2 linked regions of the Homo sapiens genome follow. The protein of the gene in region 2 purifies or fractionates together with the protein of the main gene of each other region. This does not show direct contact. Each region holds a gene or a part of one and is shown on either strand. Other genes may lie near its edges. The genes, in order: PKLR and NT5DC1.

Region 1 (2,945 bases), on a different chromosome or scaffold from region 2:
AGTATGTACCCAAGGGCAGATGCCTCTTGGGGAAGGCCATGGGGACCTGAAACATTGCCCCATGGAAATGTCGACCCTGTGCGGACATTCCGCATACTGCCATGAAGACGGTCTCTGTGTCCTCAGCTCAAGAATCCTGTAGCTTGTCCCATCATAATCCATTCACCCGTTCATCATGTGTACTGAGCAGCTACCATGTTCAAGGTAATATGCCAGGCGCTGTATGTCTCCACTGCCAAGTAGAAGTGACTCAAAACCCTCTGACAAGGATATTCCCTTGGCTATGGTCCTGCCAGGTGCAGGCCCAGGCCCATGACCCCACCTTTACTAAGCACAAGTACTTGCCACTGCCATCACTGCCAAGTAACTAGATGTCTCTGTTTCCCTGCCAATGATCCTGCAGGTTCTGCCCGGTCTGGTTATCTTCCTGTTCCTGTAGCATAGCCAGGCACTGCCAGTCACCTGTGCCCCCATTGCTGTCAGCAGATGTCTTGGGTCCTGAGTGTGGGTATCCACTTTTACCCGCTCACTGCCACCTGTGGACACTCTGTGTCTACCCTCTGAGTGGGAACATACTTCTAAGTTCCCTGCAGTCTCTGTCCTGTGGTAGACCATCTTTTTGTAAACTGCGAGCTTCCTCTTCCCTGTACCCTCTGCCCCAGTCGTGACCCCCTAAAAGTTAAGGGGTAGTTGGCACCTCCTTATTAATATGCCAGCCTAGATCCCCCCCGGTGGAGGGGCAAATGGCTGAATCCTTGTGTGATATTTTTTTCTTCGCTTGTTTATTTATTCATTTATTTAATTGTATTTATTCATTTACTAACTTTATGTGTTACCAATTAATTTTGTTTACCCATTCCTTTATCCATCCCTCCCCTCCTTTTCAGGTAAGGAGACAGGAGGAGTAGGAGGAGGCAGGGCCTCTCCATGCCAGCCTCTGTGGTCCTTGCCCAAACCCATCAGCGCAATACTTGAACCTTCTCCCAGGTAGGGGCAGGAGGAGCCACATGAGAGAGGGAGAAGGACCGCGTTTACCTTTAGAGTTTTGTTTTGTTTTTTCCTTCTGAGTTTGCTGTTGGTGCAGGAATAAGGGAAAGGCCCAAGGTATCCAAGCCTGGGGAAGGGCAGGCCAGCCAGCACCTCTGCCTTCTCAGGGACAAGAGTAGTCCTTTACCACCCTCACTCTGCCTGTCCCCTCTCCTACTCTACAGCATTAAAGACTGTGGGACCAGGACCCTAAGTCTCCTTTCCTTCTGGGTGGGGAGTTCTGGGGTTCTTGGTGTGTGGGAGAAGTTTTATAATTGCTTCCAAACAGCTGGGTTTAAATATAAAATAGACACACTCATTTTTGGCTCTTGGTTTGTGTGTGGGAACAACATGAGTGGGAAGGAATTTCTGGGTGCAGAAGGAAGCAGCCGGGGATTTGACCAAGCAGGGTATCAGGCAGGCATGAGAGCAGCCAGGACAGTGGTCTACAAGCCCAGCACGGAGGTTGTGAAGACAGTGACAAAATCAGCTGCCCAGCCCTCACTTCTCCCCAGCATCCATCCCACCCAGTTTTCCCAAAAGCGTGGACTTTCATGTAACTGTTAGTCACCATGAAGGGGTAGCCTGCCCTGGCACGAGATGCCCAGATTATCATGAGGGCTACATATGAGAATGGGAGACTGTGGACAAGATTGCCCTGTCTCCCCTCTCCCCCACCCCAAGGGATGGGATGCCTGGGGTTATGGAATTAACCAGCCAAACTGGGATTAAAGACTCAAGGCATCTTAGGGCCTGCTGAGCAGATTGGATGCAGGGAATGTACAATTGGTGCTGTTGGGTGGCCAGTGCATAATTGGACACAGACTTTCAGGACCTGTGTGAAATGGAGATGGGGAAGGGGCAACCTCGAAGGGGCTAGATGACAGTTATAGTCTCAGATAGGCCTCAGGTAGGGAGGGTCAGGAATAGAGAAGAGAGGACTTAAAGGTGGGGCTTTGGAGGGGTGTGGGCTGGAGAACGTAGACTGGGGAGGAAGGGATGGGGTACAAGGGTAGGCTGGGCCAGAGGAGGGAGGGGCGTCTCAGGATATGCTTAGCACCCGCATGATGTTGGTGTAGCCGGAGCCAGGTCGCCAGCCTGTCACCACAATCACCAGGTCTCCAACACGGAGGAAGCCACGGAGCTTTCCTGGGGGAGGGAAAGAAAACAAATCATTGGACAGGTGTGGTGGCTCACACCTGTAATCCCATCACTTTGGGAAGCCAAGGCAGGAGGATCACCTGAGGTCAGGAGTTTGAGACCAGCCTGGCCAACATGGTGAAACCTTGTCTCTACTGAAAATACAAAAATTAGCTGGGTGTGGTGGCGCATGCCTGTAATCCCAGCTACTAGGGAGGCTGAGGCAGGAGAATCGCTTGAACTCAGGAGGTAGAGGTTGCAGTGAGCCGAGATCACACCACTGCACTCCAGCCTGGGGACAGAGCAAGACTCCATCTCAAAATAATAATAATAATAATAATAATAATAATAATAATAATAATAATAATAATAAAAGAAGAAAAGAAAGAAAATTAGTCATTGAGGGACCAGGCCAGCCCTGTAACGAGAACCAGCCACCACCTTTCACCACATCAAGGCCATCCTGTAGGGAATGAGGCAGTGAAGTATGTCCCACGGGTGGCATGCAGGGAATGTGACCACTGCAGTATATTAAAGGTGTAAGAGATGCCAGCACGGTGGCTGACGCCTGTAATCCCAGCACTCTGGGAGTCCGAGGCGGGCGGATCACGTGGTCAAGACATTGAGACCATCCTGGCCAACATGGTGAAACCCTGTCTCTACTAAAAATACAAAAATTATCCAGGCGTGGTGGCGCATGCCTGTAGTCCCAGCTACTCAGGAGGCTGAGGTGGGAGAATCACTTGAACCCAGGAGGCAGAGATTGCAGTGAGCCGAGA
Region 2 (8,213 bases):
GGACCCCACTCTCCCACTCACACATCTACGTTAACTGACTGGTATCAGACTTCTGAGTCTGCAACCTTAGAGAGGAGAAACCATGTGTCATCCTCTCTTCTAGAATGCCTTTCCTGAGGCCTCATGTGAGGGGGACACACTCAGTTCTGTGTTTGCACAACTCTGTGCAGTTGTTAAATGCCTACAAAACTGAAAGGAGACGCACTCACAGCTCTCCATGATGCAGCCCCCACTGACTTCTCCACCATCTTCTCCTGCAACTTGCCACCTTTTGCTTGCACCCAGCAGTTCCCGGTGCTGTTGCTCACCTCGAGGTTCTGACCTTTACTCTAACTCCTCTGGGTGAAGCACTCCTCTCCACCTCCTCACCTGCCAGCTCCCGGCCTTTCCTCTGTGTTTTCGGGCACCATACAGACAGCAAGGTGGGAAGAAGCAGAAATCCACAGCCGGACTACCTCGCTTAGTTGCCCTGGATACACTTTCCTTCTGTGCCCCGTTGCTTGATGCTCTCTTAACAGTGACTAAATCACTGTTAAGTGATTAAACAGTGGTGATAATATCTACCTCACAGGGACGTTGTAAGGATTAAATCCATTCATATAAGCAGCATGCTTATTAGAATCATGGCTGTATCATATTCTGTTATTAAAATACCTATTATCTATTCAGTCTATTTATTGAGTCCAGTATGTGCCCAGCACTAAGCTCGGCACACAGAACACACAAGAAACTGTCACAGATACTGATGGAGTCATCACGCTGGGCTCTAGGGGAAGTCCAACAAGTAAACAGGAAGTGTTAATATCATGCAGCATGTGCTATGAGGAATGAAGGGTTTTGTGGAAAACTGAAGGTGGGCTTAGAATGGAAGGGCAAACTTTAAGGGCCAAAAAGACTTCCTAAGGGGAACGATGTTTAAGATGAGGCCTGATGGGATGAAGAGCTTCTGTGCAGAGCAAAGAGGCCCTCCAGGCACTGTTGGCAGCGTGAAGCAAGACCCAGGTCATACTACCCACCACAAGGGACCAAGACTAACTCTTCAGCATTTTTGCCTACTGTGTAAGGCTGCCTGGAGGCCTGCGTGTTGATCTCTGTATCCTCAGCTCTAGCATGGTGCTCAGCACACTGTGGGACTTAAAATAAAAAAGATTTCCACACCAAACATGATCCAAAACTCAATAGGTTACTGTTTTCAAGCTTTAAACATCACTTATTCTCCAGGTTTGCAGTAAAAAAACCTCTTGTCTTTGAGAATCTTATATTCTGAAATTTTATGATCACCTATGGACAACACTAGCTCTAACATGACAGTGGTTTAACAATATTACCTCCAAATGAAGGTAACTAAAGAGGAGACACACAAAACTGTGAACCAGGAAGGATTCGAAAGACACAGAGGGAAGGAAAACATGTATCAAAGACCTAGGGGAAGCAGTGGCCAAAGAATCAAGCAGTAAAAAAGCCTTCTTAATTCTCAATGTGACTAAGGAAACCAGACCTGTAAGGTAAGAAAGCAGGAAAGTGTAACAGCAGAAAAAGGACATTTAAAAAAAAATTTAGCATCTGGGCATAGAAAACACACGAGAAATTCGGGCAGCCACTCTTTTTTGACCTTTAACGTGTACCTGAACTGGTGGGTGCAGGAACTGGCGGGTGCCCATAATGGGGCACAACCCTGGCTGATGTCTGCACCAGTGATCTAGAGTTCTACCCATAAACTGTGAGGTTTCCAAATAGTTTGGGTGGTAACCATAAAAGCAAACACTTGTCTTTGCCAAGGTACTATTCTAAGCATTATACATCTCTTACTCATTTAATCCTTGCAACAATCTTGTGAGGTAAATCCAATTATTAGCTCCATTTTACAGATGGGGAAACTGAGAAGCAGCACAGGTTAAGTAACTTCCTCGAAGTCACAGAGCTAGTAACAGTGGAGCTGGTGTCCTAAGCTAGGCAGTCTGGCTGAGGAGTCCTCGCTTTCACCACTGTACTCATAACCAGCTCTTTTTCTGTCTGGATGCTTAGATCTTGGACTAAAAAAATCTGGTAACTTTTCAAAATTAGTTTCCTTGGGAATTGGGAAACCAAAGGAATAGTGGAGGGAGGGCAATTAATTTGAGTGTACAGGTCTGGAAGCATGCATACTCCATGTCCCCCTCCCTCAGGGCACAGTGAGGACCCAAACTTCGCAGACTGTTGGTAGGACTGGAATGTATTCAAAGTGCACGGAGCACGTAGTCGATGCGCAATAAATATGTATTTTCTTCTCTTGATAGAAGGTAAAACTAGGGCTAAGATCTTAATGACTTTTCAACTAGTGTTCCTTTCAATACACTACACTATATACTACGCATCTCTCCCAGATTGCAGTTTAAACACTGATGGGTGGTTGATCGTGCAAACAGAAAAATGCAGCCAAAAAAAATGCAAGTACCAAATCAAGTGGCTGTGTCCACAATCAGCTGGTGTCCAGAAAGACATGCAGAGAAAGTTCCACGACGTGAGATCTTCAAGGACAGCCCTAGTCCCCCTGACCCCGCCCCTCCTCGGCCCTAGAAATCACCGATTCCCCAGCCCGGTCTTGCGCAGTTTGCCCCTCCTTCGTTCTTCCCTATCCCTCTCAACATTAGCTAATGGCTGAGGTAAATGTGCCGGTCCCCACGGCACCGGCGCGGAGCGGAGGCTGCACACTTCCGCCCCTTCTCGCCGCTGGAGGCCGCGCTCTGCGGCAAGACTCGGCCGCCGCAGGCCCCGGGCAGCGTCCGCCGTTGCCCAAACCTGGAGGAAACTCAAGCCCCAGCCGCCATGGAGGTTGCGCGCAGTGCGCCCCGGAGCCCGCGCCACTCACCGGGGCGCTCTCGGGCAGGTTGTAGCGACACAGAGTGTGGTCCAGGTCGAATCCGACCACGTCGCAGGCGGCCAGGGAGAAGTGCTGAGCCATGGCTGCGCGGGGAGCACCAGGGAGCGCCTCGGCCGCGAAGGGTGCAAGGAGCTGGCTGGCGGGACGCTGCGGGACAGGACCGGGCCGGACGCGGCGGGGCGGGGCTGCGGCTGCCAGGGCACACGGCGCGGCAGCCTCTCCCGCCTCCCGCGCCCTCGAGCACCGCCCCTCGATACGCTTAGCCCCCGCCCCTCGCGCGGCGGGCGTCCTGCGCCGCCCGGAGTCAGGTAGTCAGCTCGCGTCCTCCTGGTACCCCAATGCCGGCGACTCCTGATCTGTTCCGCAAGCCTAGGAGCCCAGAAGGCAGTAGGGGTCCAGGAGCGGTGCCGCTGCTGCACAGCTGAGACCTGTAGGCACGTAGCCTTTCCCGAGGGCTACCACAAAATTAACCGGGACACTCCATCGCCTCAGGGCGCCTCGGAAACCAGGAGATCATGAGGTTAGACCTGACCTTTTACCCCTGTGTGAGGAATAGTAAGATCATAGAAAAAATTCATCCGCTAATATCCCTCTGACCCAGTTAGCCTACAATTTGGAAGGTCTTTTCACCCACGTGATCTTTGATAGTGGTTTAAACCAAAAACTTTATATTCCTTGGTTTCCTAAGTGGTTAAGTGGAAGACAGACCTTTCACTATTTCATACCCTGGAGTGCGTTAGAAAATAAATGTATCAGACATCGTGAAGAACCATTTTGCAAGATGATACTTGTTATGGAAACCAATATTGGTTATTACTTGATAATCCTATTTTGTTATTGTAATGAATTTTTTATGAAAGGGCATCAGAAACTTCATAGAAATATATAGAGCATACTACAAAAAACTTTTGCAAACCGGGTTTAAGGTTTATAGAGCACAAAATGTTTTGAGTGACATTTGCTTAATTCTCTCAAGAACTGTATAACTACTACCATTTTAGATGCAGAGAAAGTTAATCCATTACATACAATGTATGCCTTAGGGCATTTAATTCTCTTCCTGATTTCCGGATGTGAAGGACTAGCACTTTGAGATCTTTATTACATAGTACCTCATTTTAAAAAGAAAATACAAATCTATTATGTTTACACTGCTTCAGTTCTCAATTTAAAGGAACAATGTGTCTAATGGGACAAATCAATAGTCGTGACATAATGAAAATATAATTGATTGAGAACTGCATTTAACCCTTTCAAATACTAATCCTTCTGAGGCTAATAGACCAATCAGAGGATTAATTTAGTGCAATAGATAGTACAATTGAGTAGGAGGACACTTATACCTAGTAGACCCATTTGAATAAAATTGATAACTTGTTCCATTATAACACTTAAAAGCCCCAAACAAATCTCTCTGGAATAGGAAAAGTAAAGAATCTTCAAGAAGATTAAGCTGTTCACTGATGAGTCCAACAATCATGTTTTCAATGTCTGTGAACCAAAAGAGAAAAGGCTGGATTGTTGGAGAGGCTGGAAAAAGCTTGTTGGCCCTGGAGCATTGACCTTGGCATTCTCCTCTGCACCTTGCAATAGAATGCTACCAAAGTCAAACTTCCAGGTGCATGCCACATTGAAGGGCACATGTTTCCTTGGGGAATATCTTGTTTCATGTGGGAGTAGGTGCTTTAGGTACTTTAGGGACTTCCCTTAGTAATACAAATGTACTAGTACATTCATTGTAAGAGGGAAGAGTATAAAAGGATTGTTTTTTGTTGACTTAGCAAAAACTTCTCCTTACAAAACCTCTTGAGTGTGCTGAATTGTGAACAGGAAATTGACTTGGGGTAAGGGGAGAGAGGGAACCAGGGCACTCTTAAAGAGAAAAAGACCCCTGGGTCGATAACCAAGTGGTCCTGGGACTGGATCTGGCTATTACATGCACATCAACAATCTTATGTACTTGCTGATTAACAAATTATATATATTCTGCATGTTTGCACAAACAGTTCTTGTGCTAGAGAGTCCACATCATTTAAACTTTGTGGGAGAATTTTGCAAATGATCCAATCCTAGAGGCTTGTACTCTTTCTTGAGCCCCACTCACCTTTCCTTTGTACCTCAAACCTCAGTCTGACTCTTCCAGAAATATAGGGGATGGTTCCCTTCTCTTCTCCCATTCCCTACATAACCCTGAGTTTAAATACAAACACTCAGTTTAATTGTTTCATAAGGCTTATTTTTGGATAAAGATATTTCATTTTCCCTGCACATTAAACTTTTATCACACTTACTGATAAAATGCCACAGCTCTTGTATTATCAACTACAAGTTCAGTCTTCTACTTAGATACCAATTAATTTCTGTTTCTTTGAGTATCATGGACTGAATTTTGTCCCCCACTCATTCATGTGTTGAAGACCTAACCCACAATGTGTTTATATTTGACATAGGGCCTTTAAGGAAGTAATTAATGTTAAATAAGGCCATAAGGGTGGAGCCCTAATCCAACAGGATTAGCATTCTTGTAAGAAGAGGAAGGGGCACCAGAGTTTTCAAGCACACAAGAAAGGCCATGTGAGGAGCCACAAAACCACGGCTGTCTGCCTGGCGTCGTGGCACACACCTGTAATCCCAGCACTTTGGGAGGCCAAAGTAGGCAGATCGCTTGAGGTAAGGAGTTCAAGACCAGCTTGGGCAACATAGCGAGACCCATCTCTAGAAAAAATACAAAAATTAGCAGGGTATGGTGGCAGGCACCTATAGTCCTAGCTGTTGTAGGGGCTGGGGTGGGAGGATCGCTTGAACCTGGGAGGCAGAGGTTGCAGTGGGCTGGAATCAGGCCATCGCACTCCAGCCTGGGTGACAGAGAGAGACCCTGTCTTTTAAAAAAAAAAAAAAAAAAAAAAAAAAAGCTGTCTGTAAGCCAAGGAGAGTGGCTTCACCAGAAACCAACCCTGACAGCGCCTTGATCTTGGACTTTGAGCCTCCAGAACTGTGAGAAAATAATTTTTTGTTGTCTAAACCCCATTGTGTGGTATTCTGTTAAGGCACGCTGAGCCAACTAAGGCAGTTAATAAGGATAATTGACTCAAATCAGTGTTGTGTTAAATGTAGGAAATATTTGCCATTTGAAAGGTCTGTAAAGGACATGAACTTGGGTTTATGTTATTTGTTGACTTCTTGAAGTTGGGTACTTTTGCTTATGTGTAACATTAATACCATGCTGTGAAGTTTTAGAGTTTTTTTGTTTTTAGTATTTCATGTACTGTTTTTTCTTATACTTATGAGTTATGTAATAATTTAGAAATATTCAGAAACAGGAAGTTATATTACAGCCGATTTTCTAGAATTAAATTTCATTATTACAATTGATCTGCTTTTAATTGAGGTGGTACTATAATTTAGCAATTTTAACCTTAGGTGTGACTTGTGATTAGCTAGCTTAAGCTTTAGACTCTATAATATCTCAATAACTGATCTTTTGTGAATTTATAATACTTTATTTTAACATCTATATTGTAAATATGATTTGCCATACATTTTTGGGAAGGAGGGAAATGGCCTGTTTCTTTTTTCATTAGTTTAAAATATGCTTTTCTAAATATTCCTAATTAAACATTGTATGTTCAACTTTTTGTATAACCTAAGCCAATCTACATATCTTCTGTGGCACATATAATTCTTTAAGGGGTAAGAAAAAAGTTCATTTACTAAATTGGAAAAAAATAGGAAAAATATGAATTTCTAAAAATAAAACTCTATGGCACTTAAATATTAGACATTTAGCTACATAGAACCAAATACTTATTTGTAATATTATGCTGAGGCCTTTAGATGGCAGTAGTCCTGCATGAGGAATATTTTTTATTTTTTTTTAGTAATCTTAAAATCTTTACATTTCTTAATAAAAAATACTTCATTTTCTACTCTCTTGATTTTCTACTCTGTTCTTACCACAAGAAGAAGAAGCCTACTTAGAAATTTCACTGTGGTTTTTTGGTGTGTGAATTTATTTTCGATGATGGAGAGGGAGGACGTAATGGGACAAAGTCCTTTTGTGTCCGTAGTTGGTTCCTTCCAGGGGGTTCTTGGTCTCACTGACTTTAAGAATGAAGCCGTGGACCTTTGTGGTGAGTGTTACAGCTCTTAAAGGTGGCATGGACCCAAAGAGTGAGCAGAAGCAAGATTTATTGTGAAGAGCGAAAGAACAAAGCTTCCACAGCATGGAAGAGGACCTGAGTGGGTTGCCGCTGCTGGCTGGAGTGGACAGCTTTTATTCCCTTATTTGTCCCTGCACACGTCCTGCTGATTGGTCCATTTTACAGAGCGCTGATTGGTCCATTTTATAGAGTGCTGATTGGTCCATTTTACAGAGTGCTGATTGGTGCATTTACAATCCTTTAGCTAGACACAGAGTGCTCATTGGTGCATTTTTGCAGAGTGCTGATTGGCACATTTACAATCCTTTAGGTAGACACAGAGTGCTGATTGGTGCGTTTTTACAGAGTGCTGATTGGCGTGTTTACAGTCTTTTAGCTAGACACAGAGTGCTGATTGGTGTGTTTTTACAGAGTGCTGATTAGTGCATTTACAATCCTTTAGTTAGACACAGAGTATTGATTGGTACATTTACAATCCTTTAGCTAGACACAAAAAATCCCCACTCGACCCACAAAGTACAGCTGGCTTCACCTCTCAATCTCTCCTCTAAACAGGACACCCCAACTGCTGTTGGGAATTGGGCGATGACCATTCTAGCTACTTCCTGTGGGATAGGGGCAAAGAAGGGGCCCTACAGTTGTACTGTCCTCTAGAGGGGAACTCTTTAGGCCAGTCAAAGGGCCAGTGGGTTTGTCCACGGGTCCTCGGTAGAAGTTGTTAGTTGAGCTCATTTGTGGTTCCATTTGTAAGACCATCTGTAGCTTGATGGCCGTGATCCTAGAGGAACCAAATTTGACAAGGAGGTTAAAAATAAAGGGCCTGAAGGCGAGTAATGGCAAGATGGCTGTCATGGGACCTAGAAAGGGGAGAAGTCATGTCACCCAATTCCAGAGGTTGGTATAAGAGTTTGAAAGGCATTGTCTGATATCAGAAGCCTTTTCCTATAAATGCTGGGCGGCATCTCATACTGTCCCTGACTGGTTAGTGTAAAAGCAACACTCTTCCCCTAAGAAGCTGCAAAGTCCTCCTTTCTCAGCAGTGAAGAGGTCTAGGCCTTGGCAGTTTTGGAGAGTCACTGCTGCCAAAGAGTCTATTTGGGATTGTAGTTACTATCCTTACTGGATAGATTTTGTTATTTCTTGCAAATTGTTTGAGAAATCCTTTGAGAGTGTGTGGTAGTAGGATCATGAAG

What was found.
Region 1: the proteins of NT5DC1 (region 2) and PKLR purify together in Homo sapiens (affinity purification with mass spectrometry; 2 studies listed by BioGRID and IntAct, with this or other methods). This does not show direct contact.

The regions. Positions count from the first base shown.
Region 1 is NC_000001.11:155,288,504-155,291,448, forward strand, and holds the end of PKLR (pyruvate kinase PKLR), read right to left. Parts: intron 2,176-2,945; coding exon 2,069-2,175; 3' UTR 790-2,068; downstream 1-789. UniProt on the Homo sapiens protein: Pyruvate kinase that catalyzes the conversion of phosphoenolpyruvate to pyruvate with the synthesis of ATP, and which plays a key role in glycolysis.
Region 2 is NC_000006.12:116,095,659-116,103,871, reverse strand, and holds the start of NT5DC1 (5'-nucleotidase domain-containing protein 1), read right to left. Parts: upstream 3,020-8,213; 5' UTR 2,942-3,019; coding exon 2,849-2,941; intron 1-2,848.